Linked DNA regions of Homo sapiens: all the other regions are linked to region 7. Evidence: fine-mapped expression QTL. A gene starts in region 7. Each other region holds a variant in brackets. All regions are shown on one strand. Distances are from middle to middle.

What was found.
Region 1: its variant is fine-mapped to the expression of PITPNC1 in whole blood (TOPMed, PIP above 0.99).
Region 2: its variant is fine-mapped to the expression of PITPNC1 in whole blood (INTERVAL, PIP above 0.99).
Region 3: its variant is fine-mapped to the expression of PITPNC1 in whole blood (INTERVAL, PIP 0.99).
Region 4: its variant is fine-mapped to the expression of PITPNC1 in whole blood (INTERVAL, PIP 0.97).
Region 5: its variant is fine-mapped to the expression of PITPNC1 in whole blood (TOPMed, PIP above 0.99).
Region 6: its variant is fine-mapped to the expression of PITPNC1 in esophagus muscle (GTEx, PIP above 0.99).

Annotation. Positions count from the first base shown.
Region 1 is chr17:67,399,556-67,403,706 of GRCh38, reverse strand. All of the region lies in intron 1 of PITPNC1 (phosphatidylinositol transfer protein cytoplasmic 1), which reads right to left. Among named protein-coding and RNA genes, the nearest start is that of PITPNC1, 24 kb to the right of the region's middle. RefSeq lists a silencer at 1,260-1,554. The variant T/C (reference allele first, on the strand shown) is at 1,853.
Region 2 is chr17:67,545,417-67,549,567 of GRCh38, reverse strand. The region is part of intron 2 of PITPNC1 (phosphatidylinositol transfer protein cytoplasmic 1); the gene reads right to left. Among named protein-coding and RNA genes, the nearest start is that of MIR548D2, 76 kb to the right of the region's middle. The variant G/C (reference allele first, on the strand shown) is at 1,631.
Region 3 is chr17:67,462,712-67,466,862 of GRCh38, reverse strand. The region is part of intron 1 of PITPNC1 (phosphatidylinositol transfer protein cytoplasmic 1); the gene reads right to left. Among named protein-coding and RNA genes, the nearest start is that of MIR548AA2, 6.7 kb to the left of the region's middle. The variant A/G (reference allele first, on the strand shown) is at 1,963.
Region 4 is chr17:67,712,007-67,716,157 of GRCh38, reverse strand. All of the region lies in intron 1 of LOC101928045 (a long non-coding RNA gene), which reads left to right. Among named protein-coding and RNA genes, the nearest start is that of NOL11, 3.9 kb to the left of the region's middle. The variant TTA/A (reference allele first, on the strand shown) is at 2,037.
Region 5 is chr17:67,438,777-67,442,927 of GRCh38, reverse strand. All of the region lies in intron 1 of PITPNC1 (phosphatidylinositol transfer protein cytoplasmic 1), which reads right to left. LOC124904046 (a long non-coding RNA gene) reads left to right here. Exons shown (of 3, transcript XR_007065881.1): 3 at 1,260-4,151. Among named protein-coding and RNA genes, the nearest start is that of MIR548AA2, 31 kb to the left of the region's middle. The variant G/A (reference allele first, on the strand shown) is at 1,884.
Region 6 is chr17:67,633,982-67,638,132 of GRCh38, reverse strand. All of the region lies in intron 6 of PITPNC1 (phosphatidylinositol transfer protein cytoplasmic 1), which reads right to left. Among named protein-coding and RNA genes, the nearest start is that of NOL11, 82 kb to the left of the region's middle. The variant T/G (reference allele first, on the strand shown) is at 2,148.
Region 7 is chr17:67,375,592-67,379,742 of GRCh38, reverse strand. PITPNC1 (phosphatidylinositol transfer protein cytoplasmic 1) reads right to left here and starts at 2,462. Exons shown (of 9, transcript NM_012417.4): 1 at 1,541-2,462. The coding sequence starts at 1,588. RefSeq lists silencers at 608-967, 1,078-1,377, 1,388-1,807, 2,158-2,407, 2,458-2,577 and an enhancer at 1,963-2,656.

The sequences.
Region 1 (4,151 bases), 24 kb before region 7:
TGATGGGGGTAATTTTGTCAAATCCTCTAAGCCTCAATTTCCACGTCTGTTAAATGAAGATAATAGGATCCACCTTGGAGGATAACTGCAAAATTGAAATGAGATGATTAACACATTGGGCCTGGCCCACTAGAATGTTCCATAAATGTTGGCCCTCTGTGTTCTCCCTTCCCCTTAAAGCAAAGCCTTGGTAAATAAATGTCCACACGGACACATATATAATTATGATTAAATGTTTATACACTAAAAAAGTTGGCTTCACCATTTTCTAAATTTTCTCCTCTGCATACAAAATTATAATCTTAAACTGTTTCTCAAAATATCTAACGAGAACCTTATTTTAAAAATCAAAACAAATGAGGAAGTAGGGAATAGTTCATTTTTAGCCTTATGAATATAATTGAGGGTTTCATTTCTACACCCAAATACCTACTGGTTTCTGCAACAAAGGAAAGCAGTCATGACTTTTTTTTTTTTTTTTTTTTTTTGTAGAGATGAGGTCCACTGTGTTGCCCAGGCTAGTCTCCAACTCCTGGACTAAAGCAATCCTCCCGCCTTGGCCCCTTGGGATTACAGGCACAAGCACTTCACCTGGCCAGACCTATGTTTTATGATTTAGATGTTACTGAAAAGTCAGTGACTTAGAGAAAGACACAAAGGCATGCTTATCACATCTGCCACGAAGCTAAGAAGAACGGTTAATACAGATATAACAGAAGCAAGAATCAAAAACGTGGTCAGGCTAGGCGCGGTGGCTCACGCCTGTAATCCCAGCACTTTGGGAGGCCAAGGTGGGCAGATCACTTGAGGTCAGGCGTTCCGGACTAGTCTGGCCAACATGGTGAAACTCTGTCTCTACTAAAAACACAAAAATTAGCCGGGCATGGTGGTGGGCACCTGTAATCCCAGCTACTTGGGAGGCTGAGGCAGGAGAATCACTTGATCCAGGGAGGGGAAGATTGCAGTGAACAGCGATTGCGCCACTGCACTCCAGCCTGGGCGACAAAGCGAGACTCCAACTCAAAAAACAAACAAACAAACAATAAAAACATGTGGTCAAACTTGAAACTAGTGGATGCCATTCATTGCATTTGTTTCAAAGTCCTATGGTTACGGCTGCTGTGGTATGGCTGCTTGTTTTCGGCAGAACACATACCCACAGGTTAGAGAGACAGCTTTGTCAGGAAATGGCGGAGGGGCGGGGGATGGGGGGTGGAGAAGACCAAGTGTAACTGACCACCTTGTCAGAAGCAGCCAGCAGTTTGATGCGGCTTCTGAAAATGACAGTGCTAGTGTTAAAGCTGAAGTTCCAGTGGTTTCAGCACTGGTCCTCCAATATCTAAGATCAGTAAATAACGGCCCATGGGCCAAATGCAGCCCATAGCCTGTTTTTGTACGCCTCTCCAACTACAAATGGGTTTTGCATTTTTAAATGGTTGGAAAAGAAAAAGCAAAAGGCACATAATATTTCGTGGCATGTGAAAATTTTATGAAATTCAAATTTCAGTGTCCACAAATAAAATGTTACTGGAACACAGCCACGCCTATTCATTTACATGTTGCCCTATGCCTGCTTTCATGTTACGAGGTCAGAGTTGAGTAGTTGCAACAGAGACCTTACGGCTTGCAAGTCTAAAATATTGCTATCTGGCGGTTTGCAGAAAAAGTTAGTTGACCTCTGCTGTAACGCATTGCGTTCAATATTTTCTAAAGGGCAATAAGAAAGAGGAACCACAGGAATGGTGAGGGAGACAAAAGCATTTCATAAATTCAATCTGAAGGAATTGAGAGTAGCAAGCCAGTGGAAGAGAAGATCAAAGGAGAACAATCTAGATTTCTTTTCTTTTCTTTT[T/C]TTTTTTTCTTTGAGGTAGAGTCTCACTCTGTCTTCTAGGCTTGAGTGCAGTGGCGCAATCCCGGCTAACTGCAACCTCCGCCTCCTGGGTTCAAACAATTCTCTGCCTCAGCCTCCTGAGTATCTGGGATTACAGGCGCCCACCACCAGGCCCGGCTAATTTTTGTATTTTTAGTGGAGATGGGGTTTCACCATCTTGGCCAGGCTGGTCTTGAACTCCTGACCTCATGATCCACCTGCCTCGGCCTCCCAAAATGCTGGGATTACAGGCATGAGCCACCGCACCCAGCCAACATTATAGATTTCTTTAAATGTTTAAAGAGTCAGCATGTGGAAAGGGCTTGTGTTTGTCACTATAGTGGTAGAAACGATCCTGAAAGCTCTAAGGAGTCAGATACCAACTAAACATGAGAAAGCATCTTCCAACAAATCAAAGTGGAAAATCATAGAGGTTGTATTACCAAAAAGAGCCCACACCCAAGCGATGGCTGGTATTAAGCCCAAAGGCAAGATGATTGCCATCCAAGATTATCATAGAAAGGACTCTTAAGTGGGTAGGAAGTTTAACTGGTTTAATACTCAGGTTCTTTCCGTGATTTTATCTCAAAAGAAAGAAAACTGGCCAGGCGCGGTGGCTCACGCCTGTAATCCCAGCATTTTGGGAGACCAGGGCGGGCGGATCACTTGAGGTCAGGAGTTTGAGACCAGCCTGGCCAATATGGTGAAACCCCGTCTCTACTAAAAATACAAAAATTAGCTGGGTGTGGTGGTGCATGCTTGTAATCCCAGCTACTCGGGAGGCTGAGGCAGGAGAATTGCCTGAACCCGGGAGGTGGAGGTTGCAGTGATGCAGTGAGCCGAGTTGGCACCACCGCACCCCAGCCTGGGTGACATGACAGAGTGAGACACCATCTCCAAAAAAAAACAGAAAGAAAGAAAACAATCATAATTGGCAGGTGAAAGCGTAACGAACAATTTCTGCTACCACATTCACGAAGGATTAGACCCTACAGGGAAATCTACTTTTATTATATATTTATATATGTATTTTATTATATATAGTTATATGTAATAAATATATATCGATTAAAATGGGCATGTTAAAAAGAGGCCTTTCATTTAAATAGAGTACATCAGCTATAAGAAGAATCACATTAGGAAAAGAAGGGTTATTTTTAGAAAGAGGGCTCTGGTTACAAAAAATAAGGAAAGGACATCCACTGCTAAATAAAATGAGCTGAAATCTTTCCTTGTGTTACTACAGGAAATCAGCACGGCACTACTTGAAAGAGGAAAAAAGTCTATATATAAAACGGAAAGGGGGAGGAATGCGTTTTAAAAAAATGCTAAACTATAAACTACAGTTAAGGGCACAGTCATGTGACTTATTTGCACCAGACTTCTTCGCAAAATAGTTTTGCAAATGACTTCCCAAAGCACAGCCACCTGTTAGGCTGTTATTTTGGCCTATTTCCAATGGCAATCTTGTCACCCGAGCAAGAGACACACCACCATAGCAACATAAACATCAGGGTGCTGGAATGAAATTTAAAGTAGCAATTTATAGCCCCTGCAGGGCTGGAAATAAACTAATCCTTAAGCCTTTATGACTATGACACAACATTCCCACTGGGCAAAGTTAGATCCCACGGACATCTCAGGATTTCCCATAGGCCATTTGGAAAGCAGAGACTCCAAAATACCTATGGCACTAGAGGGTCCCCCTAAAATAAAGGCATTTTAAAGTGTGAAACAGTACCTAGCCCATCATGATCACCAGGTGTTTTCACACTCCCCACAAATGGACAATGACCATGACCCCTTGTATTTGCAGAGTAGGCTCCGTATTGCATGAGATCAGCCCCTAATACAGGCCAAAAGAGGGCATTTGACAGTTGAGAAAATTGACAGGTGAGGCCCAGGAAAATGAGTCTTTCTCAATCAAATCATTGATATCACACAGCAAGGACTGACTAGGTCTTCCGTGTCCACACTCTTCCACAGTATTGCACCAACCCCAACTCCGGGCAACTTACAGGTACTTTGGCTCAGGGAGATAAAATGCAAAGGTGTTTCATCAAATGAAAAGGTAGAGTAAAATGAAAGAAAAATCAAGTTTGAAAGTGACTATGCCTGTTTTCAGGGGTAAGTTTTTGCACTGTTGGAATTTGCCATTTGATATTGGAATACATTCTTAAATAAATGTGGTTATGTTATACATCATTTTAATGCACATTCTTTCACTTTTTTTGCTAATGACTTATTACTTGCTGTTTATTTTATTTTAGACTATGGAAAT
Region 2 (4,151 bases), 170 kb before region 7:
GTCGAGACTTTTTCTATTTGTAAATGGTCCCTCAGGACCCCAGATTCTAGAATCTATTTTAGCTGTTTCAGCCACCAACTTATATAGGATATGCAGCACGATAATCAATGACCTTTTCCATTGAGATGGCCTAAAAAACCACGATCATTTAGTCAAGATAGCTGATATTTTATGGAACTCTTCTTCCTTTTTTGGGAGACGTCTCGCTCTATCCCCACACGAGAGTGCAGTGGCGCAATCTTGGCTCACTGCAACCTCCGTCTCCTGGGTTCAAGCTATAGAGACAGGGTTTCGCCATGTTGACCAGGCTGGTCTTGAACTCCTGACCTCAGGTGATCCGCCCGCCTCGGCCTCCTAAAGTGCTGGGATTACTGGCATGAACCACCGCGCCCGGCCTGAACTCTTCTAATCAGTCTGGAAAGGAGGTTCCTTCTGGTATTTTCCAGGCCAGACGCGAGAGGTATTTGCAACAAGTTCCATGATGCGCTATTTAAATACTTTTAAGCCCACCAACAGATCTTCTCTCAGCCCCCGATTTCCTCACAGCACATCATTATTCCAATCATTTGTCTGAGAAAGTAAAATTTATTTTTCCCTGCAGCAATGATTTATCAGGGCCTGCAAAGGAAAATGGAATTAAATTAGTCCCCACTGTTGCTGTCACTTTCATGATGTATACTGTCACACAGCCTACAATTCCAAGAAAAAGTCTGTCACTCATGCTCACTCTAAGTGTCAAACAAGAGCCTCTCTATTAGAAAGGCAGCAAGTTTGAATCGAGTCTCCTTGGTCTATGGGCTAGGATCAAACCTCCAATGGCCCATCTCACCAGGGCTCAGGCTTTAGAGACATTGAGGAAAAAGAGGGGCAAAATGATACCACAAGCAGCATCATATTCCCCCAGATGCCTTGTCAATGCCTCCCAAAGACAGACTTTTCAAAAGCTTTGGTTTCTTACTCACTTTATTTATTTATTTGAGACAGAGGCTTGCTCTGTCGCCCAGGCTGGAGGGCAGTGGCACAATCTCGGCTCACTGCAACCTCCATCTCCCAGGTCCAAGCGATTCTCCAGCCTCAGCCTACCATGTAGCTGGGATTACAGGTGCATGCCACCACGCCAGGCTTATTTTTGTATTTTTAGTAGAGACAAAGTTTCACCATGTTGGCCAGGCTGGTCTCGAACTCTTGACCTCAAGTGATCCACCCGCCTTGGCCTCCCAAAGTGTTGGGATTACAGGCATGAGCTACCATGGCCAGCCCGGGTTCTTACTTTTAAACGTTGGTATAAAATAGAACATATCAATGACACAGCCAAGTGGACAACTCATCTGGTTTGCCTGGGACTTCCCTGGTTTTAACACTGAAAGTCCCACCTGCCAGAAAATCCCTCAGTTCCAGGCAAACTGGGATGGTTGGTCACCCTAGAACAGGAGTTCTCACTAGAGGGAGATTTTGCCTCCTGCAGGAGACACCTGGCAATGTCTGGACATTTTCGGTTGTCTCAACAGAGGCGAGGTGGGGTGGGCAGTGCTACTGGCATCTACTGAGCAGAGAGAGGCCCAGGGTGCGGCTCAGCCTCCTATGATGCACAGGATAGCCGCCCCCCACCACCACAGCAAATAAAGATCCA[G/C]CCCAAAGCATCAGCAGCAACAAGGTTTTGAACCCTGGCAGATCATCTCTCATGTCATAAATTCCCCAAGGTTCCCGAAATCACAACTGATTTAATAAGAAGGTTCAGGGGCAGGCATAATCTGAACTGGTCTCAGGTTATGGGTGTTTACCTACTTCATAAAGAGCTTCTGGAGCAGAACCTAAATCATCCCTCCATTAGAAGCTTCTGGTACTTTACGATCCCTATGATCACAAAATTCAAAACTCCCCCTGGTACCTGATCTCACATTGCAATGTATGCTCACTTGGGCTTTGGCTCCAGGAGGTTTTGAACATCATTAGGCCAAACGTGTCTAAATAGAGTCTAATTTCATTTTCTCAACAGGGGTCAGAATTACGGTGGTCTTAACTAGAAATTTTATTTTGTTCTTTTTCTCTTTTGAGACAGGGTCTCGCTCTGTTGCCCAGGCTGGAGTACAGTGGCATGATCGTATCTCACTGCAGCCTTGACTTCCTGGGCTTAAGTGATCCTCCTGCCTTGGCCTCCCTGGTAGTTGCGACTAAAGGCATGCACCACCACACCCAGCTAATTTTTAAATTTTCTGGTAGAGATGGGGTCTCACTATGTTGCCCAGACTGGAATCAAACTCCTGGGCTCAAGCAATCCTCCCATCTCGGCCTCCTGAAATGCTGGGATTACAGGCATGAGCCAGTGCACCTGGCCTTTACCAGAACTTGAACATTCCCAGCAGAAAAGACAGTCCTGGAATTTTCTTCTCAACAGCGTACCTAAAACCTGCCATGTTCTGCACTGAGATTATGCTGAAATGACTGCAGCTCATTTTAAATAGAACTCTGCTACCTTCATATCCTCATTTCTCACAAGATAGTCCAGGAGGAATATACTGACCTTTTGTTTCCTTCTTGTACTAAAACTGGCAATTGACATCTGTTTGATTCATAATCAATTGCCCCCATCCAGTTCTATGTGCAGTGATTTCTGGGGTCTTAAAATATCTTCTCCAGCTGCTCTGATTCATTTAGTTACTCTTCTAAGTGATTGTTCTGGCTGGTCTTTTACTTGTGCTCTTAATGTAATTGTTTATATGGCAGTAGGGAAGTGAGCAGTTTCGGGACCAGAGTTATCAGCTGTGGGAGGCAAGGCTGCCGGGGCCTCCCCGGCAGGGACTGGCCAGAAACCAAGTTCCTTGAACTTGGACTCACGGGCCCCACCCCCGACCTCCCTGCTTAACAAGACAGTTTGTGTCAGGATTCTGGGAAAAGGAGCCTGCCTCCTGCAGGTTCCTGGAAGGCTCAGCTTGGACAGCATCAGGGTTATGTGGACAGTGTGCTGAGAAGCCCCTGGCAAGGCGACACAGGACACACCATCATCCATCAGCAGTGAGGCAGAACCCAGGTGGAAAGCCTCCTGGAAAACCTCTGAGATCCCAACCAGGCCTAAACATTCTGTTTCTATGAGTTCCTACAGGAGCACAGGGAAGAGGGGCCCGGTAGCATGAGAGTCCCTCACAAGTCCTTAAGTACTCAGATGGGGACAGAATAGGATAGCATGGACTGAAAGGTTGGAAGGAAGCACCCCATGTGCTCTATTATTTTCCATAACACTTATCACCTTCTAAATATATATATATATATATATACATATATAGTCTCCCTATATAAATAATATGTAATATACATAAGTATACAGACTATATAAAAGTATATATTCTAGACGATATACTGTTTTGTTTTTGTTTTTGTTTTTGTTTTTGTTTTTGAGATGGAGTCTCACTTTGTCACCCAGGCTGGAGTGCAGTGGCATGACCTCCACCTCCCAGGTTCAAGTGATTCTCCTGCCTCAGCCTCCCGAGTAGCTGGGACTACAGGCGCGGGACACCACTCCCGGTTAATTTTTTGTATTTTTCCTAGAGATGGCGTTTCATCATGTTAGCCAGGATGGTCTTGATCCACCCACCTCGGGCTCCCAAAGTGCTGGGATTATAGGGGTGAGCCACCGCACCTGGCCAATATACTGTTCTTTATTATGGCTATTGTGCACTGTCACTCCCGAGTGGAATGCAAGTCCCACCAGGGCAGGGATGTTTGCTCTGTTCACTATTGCAACCCCAGCACCTAGAACGGTGTGTGATGCCCAGCAGGTGTTTCTGTCTCTCCGTCTGTGTATGTGTGTGTATATATATATGTATAGACTATGTATACAGTCTAATATTCACATAGTCAAGTAACTTGACCAGCTATTACTAGATAAGGAGCCATCTTTCAAACATAGCATGGGCAGCAGCTTATATATTTTGGTAAAAAAATAAAAATAAATGAATAAATGGATAGAGAGACCCATATTTTATGTTATTTATTTTGAGACAGAGTCTTGCTCTGTCACCCAGGCTGGAATGCAGTGATGCAATCTCAGCTCGCTGCAACCTCCACCTCCTGGGTTCAAGCAATTCTCATGCCTCAGCCTCCAGAGTAGCTGGGACTACAGGCATGCCACCACACCTGGTTAATTTTTGTATTTT
Region 3 (4,151 bases), 87 kb before region 7:
ACTCACTACTGAGGTATTCCAACAGTTGGAATGAAGTAGTTGAAAGAGAGGATCAAGGCAATCATCATCTCCCAGCCCAACCTCCTGCCAAGCACCAGGGCCAAGCACTCCTCCTGCGACTCCCAGAGGGTCCTGTTCAAACCACAGGTGCAGAAGGTGCAGACATCTGACTCCTATTTCCTCTGTGTCCAAGAGTGGGGGTTTTTCAAGCAAAAGGGCTAACAACACTGAATTCGGAAGGCAAGAGGGGTACTTTGAAGTGGGACTCTTAGAGGACTGCTGAACTTACTGTGTTAAAAGGGATGAGTTAGAAAAAGGCCAACACCTGGCCCTTTCTCTTTGCTGTTTTGGGTCGTGTGGGAGGGCCCTGCATGAATCCTTTACTAGGCACTGGTTGCTGTGAGTTTCAGCTACTAATGGGTCCCATCTGCCCCCTTGTTTGTAAATTGCGTTTGAACAAATGGGAACCTCTCCACCTGTGGGAGGCCCACAACCAATCAATGGCTGACATTGAGAGGGGTACAAAAGGCTGACTTTGGCCAGCCCAGTGGCTCACACCTGTAAATTCCAGTGCTTTGGGAGGTCAAGACAGTAGGATCAATTGAGGCCAGGAGTTTGAGACCAGACTGGACAACATCGTGAGACGCGCCCCCCCCCACCCCCCCACCCCACCATCTCTACAGAAACTTTAAAAATTAGTTATGCATTTGGGCGTGTGCCTGTAGTCCCAGCTACTCAGGAGGCTAAGGTAGGGGGATCGCTGGAGCCCAGAAGTTCAAGGCTGCAGTGAACTATGATGGCACCACTGCACTCTAGCCTGGGTGACAGAGGGAGACTCTGTCTCTAAAATAAATAAATAAATAAATAAATAAAGGCCGACCTTGCCTGACGGGGGGGAAACCAGCTCTGTGATGCAAGTCATGGACTCCCAAGACACCTGAAGTTTAGATTTACCCCCGCCCTACCATCCTCCCAGCCCTCTAGCCCCCATCCCATACATCATCTCCATGAGAATCCCTTGACTTCTAGGGAAACCTGACAAAAGGCACAAGGAGCTAAGCTTCCACGAAGTTTTGGGAGTATTTGGTTGATCCCAGGAAGAGAATTTCCAGTTCAAGGTCTCCAGTGCTTCCCAAGGGGAACTAGGCACAGAGGACTCAGAACCCAGCCCAGCTAAAGCCCCGAACATCAGAGAGGAGCCTCATTTCCCTATTCCACCTTATACAGATTGGAGAAAGGCTATCCAGTGCAGGGGCTCTGTCATTCGTGGGTGACAGCTCCTGGATCCTATGAAGATCCTACCACAAAAAAGCTGATTTTGCTAGTTCCTGGGCACCCTGAACCCAAGTTGGGGACAATTCAACATTGGCATGTGAAATCTCCCGGAGCACTTAAAAGGCAAAAAGAGTTATGTCTGCCACCAAGTCTTTTTCAAGCAGCTGCTTATGGGATTCCACATCGGTGCTACCATCACGGCACAGACTGTATTTCCTTAGTGCATTTCAAGACTTTCCTCTGCACTGGCTCATAAGGAAACCCTCTCCCAACACACATTCTATTACATTCCCTTCGTCCCCTTTCTCATTTTCCTCTGCTCCTCCTGGGGCTTCCCACAATTACCTCCCCAAATCTTCACCTTAGAGGTGGCCTCTGGGGACCGATCACTCAAAGACAGGTGTATGTTCAACAACATACACTCTTAAAATCCCGATTTCACAGTGAACAGACACAGAATGCAACACACACCTCTGTGATCTAACTAGCCATCATTTGCTAGCCAAAGTGCTTGATTCTGGGGCACAGTCAATTAAAAGTGAGAGTTGTGGCCGGGTGTGGTGGCTCACGCCTGTAATCCCAGCACTTTGGGAGACCAAGGCGGGTGGATCACCTGAGGTCAGGAGTTTGAGACCTGCCTGGCCAACATAGTGAAACCCCATCTCTAATAAAATTCAAAAATCAATC[A/G]GGCCTGGTGGTGCATGCCTGTAGTCCCAGCTACTCAGGAGGCTGAGACAGGAGAATTGCTTGGACCCGAGAGGCAGACATTGCGGTGAGAGGAGATTGCACCACTGCACTCCAGCCTGGGTGACAGAGTGAGACTCTGTCTCAAAAAAAAAAAAAGTGAGAGAGTTGTAAAATCGTGGTCCAAAACACCCTACGAACTTTATTAAATTCATAACGCTGTGCTTTTTTTGGTGCAATTTTAAATTAGCTTTTTAAATTAGCTTCCATCAATCTTCTCCTGGTCCACTGTATTTCAGATGTTGAACTCAGGACAGTGTTGAAAGATTTTTACGGGGTGAGTTCCACAGTTCCAATTCCAATTTACCATTCTTCCTTTTGTGACTTCCTCTTAGAGTTCGCCAGCCTATGGGTCCTTGAGGACTGAAAACCAATGAATTAATCAAAGGAAAAATGTTCTGTTTCCTCCATTTAGAAATTCATTGAAATATAGATGAAGTCCATCATGAACAGCAGGACGTTCTGAGAAAGCCATCAGCCTAAATGTCTTTATGAATAACTATTATGTTAGATGCTCAAAAGATCTTACATCTCACTTAGATGAATAATCCAGCCACCAAGGAACACTGGGAAGCAAATGAACATAAGGCAGTCTATACTTATTTCTCTACTTAGATGAACACAGAAAATATCATTTTTTTTTTTTTAATTGAGATGGAGTCTCGTTCTGTCGCCCAGGCTGGAGTGCAGTGGCGTGATCTCTGCTCACTGCAACCTCTGCCTCCCGGGTTCAAGCGATTCTCCTGCCTCAGCCTCCAGAATAGCTGGGATTACAGGCACGAGCCACTGTACCTGGCCAATTTTGTATTTTTAGTACAGATGAGGTTTCACTGTGTTGGCCAGACTGGTCTCGAACTCTTGACCTCAAGTGATCTGCCCACCTTGGCCTCCCAAAGTGCTGGGGTTACAGGCATGAGCCACCACACCTGGCTCTTTTTTTTTTCTTTTTTGAAATGGGGTCTCACTCTGTCACTCACACTGGAGTGCAGTGGTGCTGCAAGCTCTGCCTTTCGGGCTTAAACGATCCTCCCACCTCAGCCTCCCAAGTAGCCGCCGGAACCACAGGTGTGCACCACCATGCCCAGCTAATTTTTGTATTTTTTTGTAGAGATAGGTTTTTGCCATGTTGCCCACAGCGCCAGTCTCAAACTCCTGAGCTCAAGCTATCTGCCCACCTCAGCCTCCCAAGGTGCTGGGATTACAGGTGTGAGGCACTGCGCCTAGCCAAACACATAAAATATCTTTCCATTTTTACTACCGAATTCACATTCAGGCAGCTTCTCCTGATATCAGCGATGCTCTTTGACCCCAAGTCAAGGACTTCCGGAAGCCGAATTTGCTACCTCAGACTTCCAATGTACTATGTGAAGTATAAAATGATTACAACACGGAGATGACATCCTGTTTCACTTGTAAGAATTGGTAGTTTGGGCTCAGAGAAAGCTCAATCAATATTGCCACAACTGCATGTATGAAAATATATCCCACCAATTCAATTAAGTGATTAATCAATAATGCACATAAGTTTAAAAAAAAACTGATCAAAATCAAGCTTTCAATCCCCCCTACCCACCAATCAGAGGCACAAAGAAACACCATCCATATTCATTCCTGTTTAGCTATTATAAATTGTTACTTGCTATGCAGAAGTATTTATAAGTCTGAATTACTACAGGATGTTTGTGGTTTGAAAAATACAAATGCTATATCTCATCAGTATATAATTATATATGTACACAGTCTATATAAACACAATTTATGTATTTGTCTATAATATGCAAACCAAAGTCTTTAGTTGAGCTCAAGCTAAATAGTCTTTGTTTTTAAAAAATTTCCAATTGTTGCCGGGGGCGGCGGCTCACGCCTGTAATCCTAGCACTTTGGGAGGCTGAAGTGGGTGGATCAACTGACGTCGGGAGTTCGAGACCAACCTAACCAACATGCAGAAACCCCGCCTCTACTAAAAATACAAAATTAGCCGGGCGTAGCGGCCCATGCCTGTAATCCCAGCTACTTGGGAGGCTGAGGCAGGAGAATCGCTTGAACCCAGGAGGCGGAGGTTGCGGTGAGCCGATATCACGCCATTGCACTCCAGCCTGGGCAACAAGAGTGAAACTCCATCTCAAAAAAAA
Region 4 (4,151 bases), 340 kb before region 7:
GGGCACCAACAGGGAGATTCCCTAGAAGTCTATCGCAGTTATTGTAGTTACCAGGTGAGAGGTGATGAGGGCACCATCAGTAGCAAGGCTTTTCTTTCTTTCTTTCTTTTTTCTTTTTTGAGGCGGAGTCTTGCACTGTAGCCCAGGCTGGAGTGCAGTGGCGCAATCTCGGCTCACTGCAAGCTCTGCGCCCCGGGTTCACGCCATTCCCCTGCCTCAGCCTCCTGAGCTGGGACTACAGGCGCCCGCCACCATGCCCGGCTGACTTGTTTGTATTTTTAGTAGAGACAGGGTTTCACCTTGTTAGCCAGGATGGTCTCGATCCCCTGACCTCGTGATTCGCCCGCCTCGGCCTCCCAAAGTGCTGGGATTACAGGCGTGAGCCACTGCGCCCAGCCTTTTTTTTTCTTTTTTGAGACAGAGGTTCACTCTTGTCACGAAGGCTGGAGTGCAATGGCACAATCTCGGCTCTCTGCAACCTGCAACCTCTGCCCCCCGGGTTCAAGCGATTCTCCTGTCTCAGCCTCCCGAGTAGCTGGGATTAGAGGCACCCACCCCACACCTGGCTAATTTTTGTATTTTTAGTAGAGACGGGGTTTCACCATGTTGGCCAGGTTGGTCTCGAACTCCTGACCTCAGGTGATCCACCCGCCTCAGCCTCCCAAAGTGCTGGGATTACAGGCCTGAGCCACCGCGCCCGGCCACTTCACATTTTCGTATTCATGGCACCAGCAATTGTCTGTGATCCATACAAAGAGCTTAATACACGTTTGTTGAATAAGTCACACTTAACGTTGCAAGCTAGGATAATAAATAGAACGTGGACTTGATCCATTAAGGGAAAGTAAGACTTCCTGGTTGAGAAAGCTGGAACTGTGCTTGCATATTCGTCTGTAAATTTGAGTCTAAGTTTGGTAAACTATTAAAGGAGATTACAATCCTTTCTGGAAAGGACACCAGCTATAATAAGGGAACTAGGAGTCTTCTGCAACCAAGCCTAAGCTAGGAACGGGTCAGGAGGCGTTCCACTTCCAATGTGCATCCATCAAGGTCAATGAGCAAGAAGAGGGTCTGGCTATCCCTCACTGGTTAGAGACATTTAAGGCTGGTCTTCAAAGGCAGCTGTGACCCTGTGCATTTTACTGTGTGTTGTGGATGTTCTCTCTGGATTGTTTGTCATGTTTATGCTGCTTGGCTGCCTAGCTGTGAAGACTGGGGGAAGATATTGCCTCTCACATTCAATTCCTAGAATAGAATCAGATGATAAATATACAATGAATGAGTCTAAATATATAATGGGTAGGAAGGGAAGCCTGCTCACATTCAAAAGGGAGGATGTTACCCATTAGAAATTTGTCATGGAAGGTTGACAGCTGGTGACGTGTACATTGCATGAATGGGGTACAGTAAGTGCTTCATCAAAGGAATATTCGTAGAAGGACCATTCAGCAAAGAAAGTGAATGGTAGATATTTGTATGCCACCAAATCTCTATATTATTTGAAAGTTGTGGTGATTCTTAAATAAGATCTGAGATACTCTAAGATATGTTTTTCGGTTTCAGAAACTCAAAAAACCTTTGCGGTAAATGTTCAGACCATAGCAAATAATTGAACAATATTACCAGAATTTAGGCATATGCCCCTGAAGAAGTTTTCTGCCCAGCAAAAATCAGAGAGAGAGAGGAAGAATCTAAGATCTTTGTCATCCTTTGGGGCATACATTTCAACCTAATGTTAGCGCCCTCCCGGTGGTGCCAAAACCCAATGAGTATATTTTAAATTTTTTTATTGTGCTAAAATGTACGTAACATAAAATTGCCATTTTAACCTTTTTAGCAACTTTTGTTTTGTTTTGTTTTTTGTATTTTTAGTAAAGACACGGGTTTCACCATGTTGGCCAGGATAGTCTCGATCTCCTGACCTCGTGATCCGCCCGCCTCGGCCTCCCAAAGACTTCCACACCTGGGATTACAGGCATGAGCCGCCGCACCTGGCCTGTTTTTTTTGTTTGTTTGTTTTTTTGTTTTTTTTTTTT[TTA/A]AAGAGACAGGGTCTTGCCACGTTGTCCAGGCTGGTCTTGAACTCCTGGGCTCAAGTGATCCTCCTGCCTTGGCCTTCCCAGTAGCTGGGATTACAAGCGTGAGCCACGGCACCAGGCTCTTAACCTTCTTTTTTTTTTTGAGACTGAGTCTCACTCTGCCACCCAGGCTGCAGTGCAATGGCACTATCTCGGCTCACTGCAACCTCCTCCTCCCAGGTTCAAGCAATTCTTGTGCCTCAGCCTCCCGAGTAGCTGGGATTACAGGTGCCCGCCACCACGTCCAGCTAATTTTTGTATTTTTACTAGAGACAGGGTTTTGCCATATTGGCCAGGATGGTCTCGAACCCCTGACCTCAAGTGATCCACCCACCTGGGTCTCTCCAAGTGCTGGGATTACAGGCGTGAGTCACCAGACCCGGCCTTTTAACCATTTTTAAGTGTGCAGTTCTATGGCATGAAGTACATTCACACTGTGTTGCAACCACACCATTCATCTCTGGAACATTTTCATCTTCCCAGACTGAACCCATTAAACAATAACTCTCCATTCCCCCTTCTGCAGCCCCTGGTAATCACTATTCTACTTTCTGTCTCTCTGAATTTAAATACCATAGCTCAGATAAATGGAATCATTAAATATTTGTCCTTTTATGTCTGGCTTATTTCACTTAGCACAACATCTTCAAGGTTCATCCTGTTGTAGCATGTGTCAGAATTTCCTTCCTTTTAAAGACTGACTAATATTCCGTTGAATGGATATACCACATTTTGCTCCTCCATTCTTCCATTCATGGACAGTTGGATTGCTTCCTCTTGGCTATTGTGAATAACGCTGCTATGAACATGGGTATACAAATATCCCCTTGAGATCGTGCTTTGTTTTTTTTTGCTATATAACCAGAAGTAGAATAGCTGGATCACACAGTGATTCTGTTTTTAATTTTTTGAGGAAACACCATGCTGTTTTGCACAGCAGCTGCACAATTTTACATTTCCGTCAGAAGTACACAAGGGTTCCAGTTTCTCCATATCCTCACTAACAATTGTTATTTTATGTTTGTTTGTTTGGTTTTTTTGAGATGGAGCCTTGCTCCGTCACCCAGGCTGGAGCGCAGTGGCGCGATCTCGGCTCACTGCAACCTCCGCCTCCCAGGTTCAAGCGAGTCTCCTGCCTCAGCCTCCCAAGGAGCTGGGATTACAGGCATCTGCCACCACACCCAGCTAATTTTTGCATTTTTAGTAGACCATGAGCACGAGGTCAGGAGATCAAGACCATGTTGGCCAGGATGGTCTTGATCTCCTGACCTCGTGATCTCCCTGCCTCAGCCTCCCAAAGTAATGGGATTACAGGCGTGAGCCACTGCGCCTGGCCTAAAAAAAAAAAAAAAAAAAAAAAAAAAAAGTTTTAAGCTAAGGTCTGATTTCTGTTTTGAAAGGATCACGCTGGCTCTCAAGCAGAGAATAGCTCATAGGGGATAAAAAGCAGAAGCAGAAATACCAATTTTGAGGATACAAGAGATAGTGGCTTGTGGTAGGTGGTGATAGCGGAGATAGGGAAAAGTGGATCAATTCAGGATGTGATTTGGAGGGAGAGTTGACAGGGTGGCAGATGGGTTGAGTGTGATGGTGAGAGGGAGGGAGGAATCAAAGGCATGTTCTGCACATTTACCTTGAGTGACCAGGTGGATTGGGGTGTTCCCTACTGAAATGGGGAAGTCTAGGCAGGGGAGTAGCACATTTGCAAGGGTTGTTTGGAGAAGCCATACCCAAATTTCTATTTTGGCTGTGTTAAGTGAGATGCCAAATAAGCTGTATCCCATATGATGCTGGAGTTCCTGGCAGAGCCCAGGCGGGTGATATAGATTGAGGTATCATTGGCACATGATAGGAATATAAAGCAGTGGGACTGGAGTAGGTTGCCAAGTACTGTGGATTTTATCTTCTAAATATAGCTCAACCTGTCTACCTCTCTCCTTCTCCACTGGCCCCGCCCCCATTCCCAGTCCCATCTCTTTCTTGGACCGCAATAATTGCTTCCTGGTCTCCCTGCTTCTTTGTTGCCTTCTTCCAATCTGTAGCCAGTATGATCTATTAAAATTCAAATCCGATTAT
Region 5 (4,151 bases), 63 kb before region 7:
AAATTTAAGAGGGTGCCTCAAACCTCAGCAATACAGATAAATATTATTTTAATGCATTTTTTTTAGTTTTTCTGGGACAGAGTCTTGCTCTGTTGCCCAGGCTGTAGTGCAGTGATGCAATCCCAGCTCACTGCAACCCTTCGTCTCCTGGTTCAAGCAATTCTCCTGCCTCATCCTCCAAAGTAGCTGGGACTACAGGTGCACACCACCATGCCTAGCTAATATATATATATATTTTTGTATTTTTGGTAGAGACAGGGTTTTGCCACGTTGGCCAGGCTGGTCTCAAACTCCTGGGCTCAAGTGATCCACTTGCCTCAGCCTCCCAATATGCTGGGATTACAGGCGTGAGCCACCACGCCCAGCCATAATGCATTTTTTTTTAATCAAAATGAATGCAAAGGAAATTCACGATGAAAATACATCCAAATTCTAAATAAAGATATGCTTGTTCTTGTTTGTTTTAGGGCCCTGCCTTCTTCCCCACTGGCTGCAGAATGCCCATCCCACCCTCGTCATCTCCCACCACCTCATCCACTGGGCGGGCTTACGAGGGTTGACAATAATAGGATTACAGATTGGACAACATGAGACTTTACTCATAGTCAACTTTTTTTTTCATTGTAGAGCTTCATTAACTTTTCCACTTGGTCCACAATATGGGAGGATATTTTCATGCATATATATATATATATATATATATATATATATATATATATATATGCTTATTTTCCCCTGATCCAGCTCCAATATGGTTTGGCAGGGCAGTGCAATCAACATAGCAATAAATGAGGAGAGGCAGTCCTAAAGCAATAGTAAAAGTTTAGATGGTTAAAGAGGAGAAACCAGATTCAAGCAACATTTCTGGGGCAGAAATGAAAGAATGTGGAAATACAGCAGGTGCATGAGGCTGAGGCTCAGCTTGGGCTCAGCAGAGTTTATTCTACTCAACTAAATCACAAACGCTTCAGGGGTTACAATCCCATTCTCCTATTCTTCTGTATCATTTTGCACCCAGCTCAGTAAGTTCCTGTTAACTAATTAAGTGGAAAAGAAGAGCTTAAATCCAAGGCATACATGACTGAAGCCAGGCGTGTGCAGTTCCTACTTCATACAGCCTCTCTTGCCGAACAGCAGGGCGCACTGATGAATATTCAAAAAGTAACAACTATTAATGACGACTAAGACCCTCAAAGTGTAATAAGTTATTTTAGTGACACTCTTCTGTCACTTTTCCCCATCTAATTTCACATTCTTAGGAACAGGGAGAAGAATAATTGACGTCGGGGCTTGGCTTTATGGTCTTTACAGCTGTGATCGGATTAGAAGAAAGGCTGACAAAAGTGTTGTTTCCATCCGCCTTTTACAATCGGAGAGAATGAATGAGCTGCTTTCCAGTTTTCTGTTCCAAGTATTAACTGGATTCCCACTTCACTTTGCTTCCGTGATTTCTCCTCTGCTTATGTTAGCTTCCGTCTCACACGATATGTACATAGCCCCATCTCTGCCGAGCAAATCAGAGGCTGAGCTCTGGGCTGTGGACAGTGTCAGTGACAACAAGGGTGAGTCGTCCTCAGATGAATCATCAGGTGTGGGAAATGCGTTTGAGACACTCAAAATAACTGGGGACTGATGGGTGGCGGGGGGGGGCTTAATAAATACAAGCCTGCGAGACCTAACTTCTACACGTCTTCAGAAGGCTGAGTTGCTTTGAGAGGGAGATACAGAAGATGACAATTTGCTGCCAGTGGCTGGTCCCAGACAAGGAGCTGTGACTAAACAGGAAATCAGTTACTTAGCAGTTGAGCGGATGTTTGAGTGTTCAAAGCACAGGCACAATAGCTATACTCTGATATGTCCTGTAAAGTTAAAAACAAAGCCAG[G/A]TTAACCCTGACAGATGCACCCAAGACTGATACACTTAGGTACTACCTGGTTGCATCGCCTGGGGATCTTAATACTCTGTGAATCATTATGAATTATAATATTTAAAGCTGTTGTTTATTTGGTATTTATTGGGTGTCATAATGTTCCCAGTGCTACACAGGCGTAATTTTTAAACCACCCCAAAAGTCCTGCAAGAGGTTAGGCGTGATGGCTCACGTCTGTAATCCTAGCACTTTGGGAGGCTGAGGTGGGCAGATTTCTTGAGCCCAGGAGTTAAGAGACCAGCCTGGGTAACATGGCAAGACCCCTATCCCTATAAAAAAAATTTTTTTTCAAAAAAAAAATCAGCCAGGCATGACGGTGCATGCCTGTAGTCCCAGCTACTTGGGAGACTAAGGTGGGAGGATTACCCAAGCTTGGAGAGGTAGAGACTGCAGTGAGCCATGATGGCACCACTGCACTCCAGCCTGGGCAATGGAGTGAGACCCTGTCTCAAATAAATAAATAAATAAATAAATAAATAAATAAATAAATAAATAAATAAAAAGTCTTGCAAGAGAAAACATCTCCATTTTTCAAAAGGAAGTTACAGAGGTTGAGTAATTTGCCTGATTTCACTAAGTTGGTCATAACAGAGTTTGGATTCAAACCCAGAGCAAACGAAGGCTTAGAGGGACTAGCAACTTTTCCTTTTGAGGTCTAGATGATCTTACTTTTTGTTATTAGGGGTCAAGGCCAGGATTAGAAGGAGACAAGTGAGGTTGCGTTTGCCAGTGCGGGGTTAGAGCCTGTCTTTAGCATTTTGATATTTTGTTCATTGTAGAGTATTGTGCATTAATTTTTATTTTTTAAAAATATTGCATCAAAATATTATTTACCCTGATTTTTAGTTTTTTGGTGCCATCTTAAATTTTGAGCCCAAGGGCTAGTGTTTTACTAGCCTCACTATTCTCTAGGCTTTGCTCAAGGCTACAGACAATCTGTGATCACCTGAATTAAGCCAACAGACAGTTCTCATTTCAGACAGACTTTTCATCTTCCTCCTGCCTACCTCATACATTTTACATCCCAAATTACTGCCTACTGGGAAAGAAGGTTTTGGGTTTGTTTTAACTTGTTTGTTTGCTTTTTTGTTTGTTTGTTTGTTTTTCTTTATCTTTTTCCTTGATTCATCACCGGCTGAGATACATACTATATAAACAAGAAATGTGGCAAAAGGTGGTATATCAAGAAACGGGATGCCAAAAATTTCACACAATCCGTGAACACATTTAAGCATACTTAAAAAAGAAATGTCCATCTCATCAACAAAAAATAAGTATGTAAGGTGAGAGATATGTTAATTAGCTTAACATAATAATTCAACAATGTATTCACATATCAAAATATCACCTGGTATATTATAAATATATATAATTTTTCATTTTTCAATAAATGAATGAGTGAAATGTGGAAGAGTAATGTCAGGCCCCCGCCCAAGGCTGGAGAACATATCTTTTTCTATGAGAAATTTTCTTCCATAATTGTCAGATCTTCAAACATCTGCTTCACAGAAGTGTCTCAGAGCCCTATCACAGATACAAGATTAAATAAATACCATAAGCTGAGGCTGTGGGTTGTCACTGGCAGCTGGAGGGACAAAAGTCATCTTTTTATTCCTAACCTTTTGTTTCTGCAAATGTAGTCTATTATGACATGCACAGGTATTAGGAGGGTGACGGCCATGCCAATAGCAAACACAGCTGTTTTGAATCCTATTCTGTATTTTTTATTAACTAAATACAGTGCTTGGTAAAATAAAATAAAATCAACATTAGGAGGCTCATCAATTACACAGGAGAGAAATGGTTACATAGAAATTGACATCATCCAGGTAATATATGCCTAATCAATTTCCTAAGCAAATCAGATGCTTCTGGGCTGAATTAAAGAAACACCTTTAATTAATTCAGCACCTACTGTGTGTCCGAAACCAACCAGAAACTTGTGGCCCAGGTTTCCTAGGAGAAACTGATGACCAATAAGCTACTGCCATTTGGACCTGTATTTTGTGGAGAGTGCAGGTCATTTTTTTAATTTAAAAAAGTGCTCAATTGCAGTCCCTTTCTACAGGACAGGCCAAGGGAAACGGATGGGAGCAAAGCAGGTGGATCTCTGGCAGGATTACAATCAAATTAAATGCGCATGGCCTGGAGTTTTCTTTTCAGCACTTTCAACTCAGAATAGTAGCCGTAAGTCAGCAGCAGTACTGCTTTTTGTTGCTGGGG
Region 6 (4,151 bases), 260 kb before region 7:
TCTTGGCAGAGCATCAAGGAGCTGGGATGAAAATCTTGGCAGCGGCAAGACACTATGTATCAGCCACATAACCAGTCCAACCTGCTCAGCTTTTGGCTTCACCCCTTTTCCTGCTTTGGTGTTGATGATGGTCATTTTACATGTGACATGGTGCAAACAGCTTTATGACTCTTATGGGCGGGCAGGGTCTCAGTGGTCTGTGTGACTAATGGAGGGGCTCTCTCTGCCTGAAAAAAATCACACTAATTCCTCCCCCACCCCCACCCCACAATACGGCACTGCCCTGCAGAGTCCATTAATGACTATGAGAACAAACTTGAAGCTAAGAGGTTTTTGAGAGCTGAAGTTCAGGCCCTAACAGGAAACAGCAACACAGCAAAAATGAGAATAAGGAAAGCACAGAGCTGGGCTATCAGCTGGTCCTGAATCCCCAAAGCATGCTTCTGAGTCCCCGGTTAGTGGCGATGGCACGAGGGCCATCGGGCAGAGGGCACCCAGTGGAAAACTCCAAGCTCTGGTCACCTTCATGAGAGAGGCAGTCTTGATTGTGTGGCTCAAAGGTTTCCAGGGAGAAATGGAAAAAGAAAGGAAAGTGCTTTCATCCCCTCCTTTGGCCTGGATGGCCGTGTGTGTGTGCAACAGTAGCTGAGTGGAGAGGAGCAACCCAGATAACCCTGGTCTGGGTTCATCAGCATCAAAAAAATCCAGGAACAGATTCGGCCCATCAGCATCCGGCTTCCTCACATAAAGAGCGTTTCTATTTAGGACGCTGACATCGTCAACTTACAAAGATGGATGGGAAGAAAAGGCCCATGGAGCTGGATGCCTCCGATTAAAAAAAAAAAGGAACTCTGATTCACAACTGCTTGCTTAATGGCAACGAATTCATTTTCTTTGATAGCGGTTGCTCTGAAATTGTCACTGCTGGAAGAAAAAAAGCAAAGTCCCTTGCCTTCACTCATTCATTCAGCAACCATTGAGTGAGCGCCTGCTAAGCACTGGTGCTGTGGCAGCGGCTGGGAAAGAGCCAGCTCTTGTCTTCGCAGAGCTCATGCCATAGTGATGAGCTAGCATAACCTAGCATGATCTAGAAGCCACGGACCAGAACTTTGCTGCCTCCAGACCAGCAGTGGTGGGGGCATGCCCAGGAAAACTCAGAAAGGGGGAGTCCTGTGTGAGCTGAACTCTAAAGGAGGGCCAGTGAGGGGTTTCAAGCAAAGAACAAGGTCAGATTTCATTTTAGAAGGAAACTCCTGTGGTGGGGTGGAGGGTGTTAATTATCTACAGTGTGCCAGTTAGACATTTGTTTGGAAATGGTTTGCCTTCTGAATCGGTTGTTCCTCTTATTCCCAGTCCCTGGTGTGTTTACAGTAGACACAACCACCAAAACAGCCCAGGAAACTCACCCCTCTTCCTTTGGGTGGGTTCAGACTGCAGTCTGTATTCTGGCCTGTTGAAGGTGATGGGGCTGGGGTTACGAGGGAGTCGCCCCTGGGGGAATGCTTTTTCTAAGATTTTATTGCAGGCTCCCAGTGGTACCTATAGCCCTTTGTGGTCCGGCTGCCAGGTCCACGGAGGAGGAATTCCACCTGTTCCAGATGCCAGCAGATCCCCTGGGAGGTCACACAATGGATGATGAATGTGCAGGGCTCAGCCCTATGGGGCCCCTTCTCCCGCATCCATTTAGTAACCGTAAGACTCCAGGGCGGGCCAGGGGTGGCCCTGAGCGTCAAAGCTGAATCCAGAGTTCCATCCATCTTCAATCACCTCTTCCTGTAGAACAAGGCTTCCCAGCCTTGGCACTATGGACATTTGGAGCCAGATAATGCTTTTTTTTTTTTTTTTTTTTTTGAAACGGAGTCTCGCACTGTCGCCTGGGCTGGAGTGCAGTAGCGCAATCTCGGCCTCCTGGGTTCAAGTGATTCTCCTGCCTCAGCCTCACGAGTAGATGGAATTACAGGCACCTACCACCATGGCCGGCTAATTTTTTGAATTTTTAGAAGAAACGAGGTTTCACCATGTTGGCCAGGCTGGTCTTGAACTCCTGACCTTGTGATTCACCTGCCTCGGCCTCCCAAAGTGCTGGGATTATAGGCGTGAGCCACCGCGCCCAGCTGGAGCCAGATAATTCTTTGTTGTGAGGGGCT[T/G]TCTGTGCTGTAGAGGATTTTAGCAGTATCCCTGGCCTCTACACTCTAGATACCAGTAGCACCTCCTATGTTTTGACAACCAAGAATGTCTATAGGCATTGCCAAGCATCCTCGTGAGGCAATAATCACCCCCAGTTGAGAACTGCTCCAGCGGACAGTTTTCCATTCTCTTCCTACTCGATCTCTTGGCAGCATTCAGCACCTCTGGTCACTCTCCTCCTCTTGAAACTTGCATTCCTTGGTGCATTTCTGTGTTTTCCTCCTAACTTTCTGGCCAATTCTTTTAGACTCCTGATTCTTTTAGATTCAACCTGATCTCCATATGCTGCCATCCTTGAAGGCTCAGACTTGAACCCCTTTCCCATTTATATTTCATGCTTTCTTCCTCTCATCCATCCCCAGGATTTTTAAATCTCCTATTCGCCAAATACTCTCAAATTGGTCTCCCAGATCTCTCACCTAAGCTCCAGACTCATTTCTGTCTGTGTTAGATGCCTCACTGACATCACAAAATCCACTCATCTTTCTCCAACGTATACCTCTCTTCTCACCTTCCCATTTCAGTAAGCAGCACCCCCATCTATCAGTTGCCCAAGCCAGAATCCTTAAGGCCATCCCAATTCCTCCTTCAACCTCATCCCCACATCCAATCCATGAGCAATCCCTGTCAACTCATCTTCAAAATATACCTCCAAACCATCTGCTCCTGTCCATCTCTGCCACCAGCCCTCTAGCGCAAGCCACGACAGAACCTAAGTAACCGACAATATAAATCACAATAGTGACCTTGGTGGTCTCCTGACTCTGTTCTTCTCCAGTCCATTCTCCATCCAGAACAATATTTTAAAAGCATAATTTAGATCCTATGACACCTCAGCTTCATTTATTATTTATTATTATTTTTTTTGAGACCGAGTCTCTGTTGCCCAGGCTGGATTGCAGTGGTGCCATCTCGGCTCACTGTAACCACCGCCTCCTGGGTTCAACCTCAGCCTCCTGAGTCGCTGGGACTTCAAGTGATTCTCCTGCCTCAGTCTTCTGAGTAGCCGGGACTAAAGGCGCATGCCACCATGCCCGGGCAATTTTTATATTTTTAGTAGAGTTGGGGTTTCATTCTGTTGGCCAGGCTGGTCTCAAACTCCTGACCTCAGGTGATCTGCCTGCCTCGGCCTCCCAAAATGCTGGGATTACAGGCGTGAGGCACTGCGCCCGGCCTGAAATGTCATTTTTTCCATAGCATGTCTCCTGATCCTATCCTCTTAAATTCAGTTTCCTTATCACAGTCTCTCCCCGTACCTGCCTTCCTGCACGTGTGACTCTGAACTCCATATGTATCTGTGTGACTATTTCTCTACTGTTCGCCAAATACTCTCTGCGTGGTATTTGTTAGATTGGAAGTGTCCTGAAGGGAGGGACCCTAAGCATCTCTTTGGCTCATTGCTGTTTTTTTTTGAGACAGTTTCTCACTCTGTTGTGATCTCAGCTCATTGCAGCCTCCACTTCCCAGGTTCAAGCGATTCTCATGCGTCAGCCTCCCGAGTAGCTGACCACCCTGCCGGCTAATTTTTGTATTTTTAGTAGAGTTTTTGCCATGTTGATCAGGCTGGTCTCGAACTCCTGAACTCAAGTGAGCCGCCTGCCTTGGCCTCCCAAAGTGCTGGGATTACAGGCGTGAGGCACCATGCCCAGACATCCCCATCTTAACATTGTATGTGACACTCAGTGAGGACTCCATAAATATTTATTGGATGAATAATTACTGGACTCTTTACCACTCATCTCCTTGGCCAAGCTGCATCCAGGGAAGAATACTCTAGGACCCAGGGAAGGAGGTACGGACGTGCCCATGAGTGACCCTGTGAAGCATGAAGGAAAAGCTCCTCGAATGTCTGTGTGAATGAAAGGAAGCTTTCTAGTGGAGGTTCTTTGGGGGCACAGAGCACAGGGAAATGAGTCAGGCACGTTGACTAGAAATGAGACTTGATTTCTTCATTAATATTCTAT
Region 7 (4,151 bases):
GCTGAATTACTCTAGCTCAACTGCCCACAAGGTGGGACAATCTCCACCTTTTCTGGAAAGACTCCTATTAACCAGTCCCATTCATTTGCCCTTCTCTTTCTCCACAAAGCTATGTCCTGCTTCTCCACTTACAAGGTCATATGCAACTCGAATCTCTGTCTACCCACCTGGCATCCACCCTTCCAGACCCTGCTTAAATGCTACCTCCTCAAATGCCAACGAACTCCAAAACTCGGTTGTTCATTCTGGTGGAAGCTGATCTCTCCCTCCTTGGCAGCCTGTGTCCCCGTGATGCGTTTTGTAAACTTGCAGCTACTTTGATCTTGTCTTGGATTGTACTTGGGTCTTACCTTAACCCTTGGTCCAGATGGCAAATACGGACAGCCCCTGTGAGCTCAGCCATGTTCTCAGTTATGCATCTTTTTCTCTCCCAAAGCACATCGCCCCTCTCACCAAGTAGTGGCTCAAAAACATATCTGATAGTTTCGAGGCACCAGATTTAAATATAAAGACGGTCTGGGTGGCTGATTTCATGTGTGTTGCCACACCAAACCACACTAGTGAGTTTCACGTTGCCTTGCTTGGCTTTGGGCTCCCTCGCTGTCCCTGGACAGAGACGCTCAGCAGTCGTGGAATCACCACAAAGGTGGGGAGGAAGAAGGGGAAGAAAGGGAAGCCGGGGCCGGAATAATCCTATCTGAGTCACCACTTCCTGAATACTGGAGCTCGCGGCTTCGCAGGATCGGGAGAAGGACAGCAGAGCCGCGCTTGGAGGACGAGCCCCCGCCCCGCGCCCGGCGCCCCCAGCCGGCAGCCGCGGCCCCGGCACCACGTGCTGGAGCGCCCTCCTGTGGCCGCGTCGCAGCCCCCGCCGCTCCCGGCTCGCGCGCCGCTCCCCGCGGCGGAAGAAACAAGAGACGCAGAAAGTTTCCGAGCCAGGCGGTTTGCGAAAGGACACAGCCGGGTCCCGAGCCTCGAAGGGCGGACGTGCCGGGAGCTGCGCCCAAGCCCGCGGCGACGGCGAGAAGTCGGGCCCCGCAGGGACCTCCCCTAAGGGCTCAGAGGTTCCTCCCGCGGGGCTCGGGGCGTGCAGATCCCGAGGGCGCAGGGCTCCTCCTCGCACCCCTACCTGACCGCAGAGGGCGGGGAGGGGAGGCTGGGCCCACGGCCAGGACGGGATGCCCCCCAAACCCCAGCTACAGCGCGCGCCGGGGGCTCTTGGGTTTGGTTTATTCATTTTCTTATTTGGAGGGAGGGGGCGCACCCACTCCCTTTGGCTCATAGTGATCCCCAACAGTCTGGATTCTGGGCGCCCCCGAAAAGCCCACCCGGAGTCCGCCGCCCCACCCAGCGCCGCCCTCCCCCGCTGGGGTGACAAGTGGAAGCCGCAAATCCCCTCCCTCCTCTCCTCCAGGCTTCGGGTTTGCGGGGTAACGTCCACCTGGGTTTCCTGCCGCTCGCCCGGGGCTCGCCGGCCAGGAGGCGGCGGTAGCGGCGGGGGTCCCGGAGCGGGCGAGGCCGGGCCGGGCGCGGCGCTTACCTCGTCTACGGTGAGCGGCATGCAGATCCGGTACTCTTTCAGCAGCATGGTCCTGCCGGCCGCGGACCCCCGGGGCGGGAAGCGGGGGGCGCCCCCAAGACCAGCAAGGCTGCTGCCCAGGCGCAGGGCAGGGCGCCCGGAGCCCGGCGCTCGGAGCCGGAGGGCGAAGCAGCCCCCGCGGCGCGCTCAGCTCCTGGCTTCCTCCTCTCCGCCCCAGAGCATGTCAGGGTTTGGGTCTGGGTGTTCGCAGCTCCCCCGCCTCCTCCCTCGCCGAGGCCGGTCCTCCCGGAACGCGGTGTTGCAAAGTCAGGGAGGCAGGGAGGGAGACCCGCTGGGGACGACTCTGCTCGGCTGCCCAGGGTGGTAGGAGCGGCCGCCAGATCAGGACATGCCCGGCAGCGAGCGAGGGAGGAAAAAAGAGAGATTTCCAAAAATTAAAACGAATGCACAAAAGTCACCCGCTCGATCCGCCTCCGAAAGCAGACGGGAACCTGGCGACCCCCCTCCTCCGGCGGGTCTGCCCGATGCTAATGTCACCAGGAACACATTGCAGCCGGAGCCGGAGATGCTGACTTTCCAGACAAAGGCTCGATCGGCTTCTCTCCGCGGGCGGTAAACAAGATTTCCTGCTCTTTTTAGGGCCGGTCCCCGCGCCGCTCCGGGGCTCGGCTCGGGGAGAAAAGGGAAGCCGCCGCCGCCGCCGCCGCTCGGCTCTGCCCGGCTGGGGCCCCGGGCGCCTCCAACCTCGGCTCGCGGCTGCCAGGGGCGGGCGGGAGGAAGCTGGCGCCTTCCGCGCGCGTCCCCTCCCCCGAGTCCCTCGGCTCCCCGGGCGCCGTGCGTGCCCGCGAGTTTGCAGCCACCTCGCCGGGGCCGGAGCGTCCGCGCCGATGCAGTGTGCCTGGGGCCGGGAGGTGGGTGCGGGAGGAGCGAGCGCGAGCGAGGCTGACATCAGCAGCGGCCGCGGCGGGGAGGGTAGCCCCATCCGGCCAATGGGGAAATGGCAAAGAATGTGGAGGATTTAAACAAAACAGCATGTCTCTGCCAGACGGCGGGGCTGCTCCGGAGCGGAGCCCGGCCGGCGCTGGGGAGGCTCGGGCAGAGGGGCTTTCCTCGGCTCCTTTGCCCTTTGAATCCGCTCTCCATTGTGCCCTGAGTGCTGCCGTGCTCCATCCAGCCCCTCTGGGAAGTTTCTGGTCCCCTGACCCTAGGGACAAGTCACCAATGCCCACCACCTATGTGTGGTCCAGTAAGCAAGTCTGGGGCTGGAGAGGCAATGGGTGGGATTTGGGAACAAACCCTTGCCTGGTTTCAGAGGAGAGATCCTGGAAAACTGGGAAGTGCAGCCGTGTGAATGGAAATGAAGTACAAACGGGGAGGGAACAACCAGAGAGAACATGAACCCCACGTAGCCTGTTACCTCGCCTGGCCCGGCTCTGCAATCTTTCTGCAGATTGTGCAGGCTCCGCGCAGCAGAAAGAAAGAGTAGGTTTTCGTATCCGCACTCCTAAGTTCAAAAAGTCACAGTGAAATGTCAATGAAAATGCCTGGAGTGTTGCTATTTGATCCATATTAAACAGATCTCTCATTTTAACCACAAGAAGCACATTCTTCAGTTACTCAGGAAGCAGCATGGAACTGCTGAAGTCTGTTTTTCATTTGTCTGGTATTTTTCAGCTTGTTTTTATGAAAAGTTGCCGGATGAAAAATGCATCAGTTGCCTGTATGAGAATAACCTGTAAGCGTTATCTTTTCTCCGAAAAATCTTCACGCTCTGAAGTCCTGAAGCTAGAGCTTAGATGGCGATGCAGATGCCTCAATACAGTATTTTGAATTGTGTTTAATTAATAAGTAATTAACCAATATGACGATGATGGGCTTGTGGCAAAAGTCATCCAGAGGGCTGGAGAGAATTTATAACTGTTAACTGATACAAACCCTCCTAGGAAAATGATACCCTATATCCAGCTTATATTTTAGTGGAAACTATTTTCCAGATAAATGCTTTCCAGAGTTGGCTCAGAAATATTCACAGCAACTAATTAAAGCTAAACCAAATTCCTCGAGGTGGAAAATCTAAATCTGACACTGCAGTGTTGAATAATAACACATTGGAAGGCTGTGATATGGAAAGAAACTCAAGCTGTTTTTCCTTTTTTTTTTTTTTTTTTTGCTTCTTACTTGAAAACAAATGGAAGACCTAATAATCTTCCCAGAGGCAGGAAGGCAAGGGATTGGCTAGCCACACATGCGCATGCACTTGGGACATCGGGATGTGTAGGCTCAGTTCCTGGCTTCCTGGACATTTCCTGACACTGATTCTGGAAGGAAGTATTCTACTGACGGGTGACACTGTTGAGGAGCTACTTCTCTGAATTTCCCGAACTGTAAATTGTCACATATATGCTTCCTCCATCATCCGTCTTGTTGCTGTTATTGGTTTGTGATGGAGTTTCGCTCTTGTTGCCCAGGCTGGAGTGCAATGGCATGATCTCGGCTCACTGCAACCTCCACCTCCCGGGTTCAAGCAAGTCTTCTGCCTCAGCCTCTGGAGTAGCTGGGATTACAGGCACCGGCCACCACGCCTGGCTAATTTTGTATTTTTAGTAGAGAT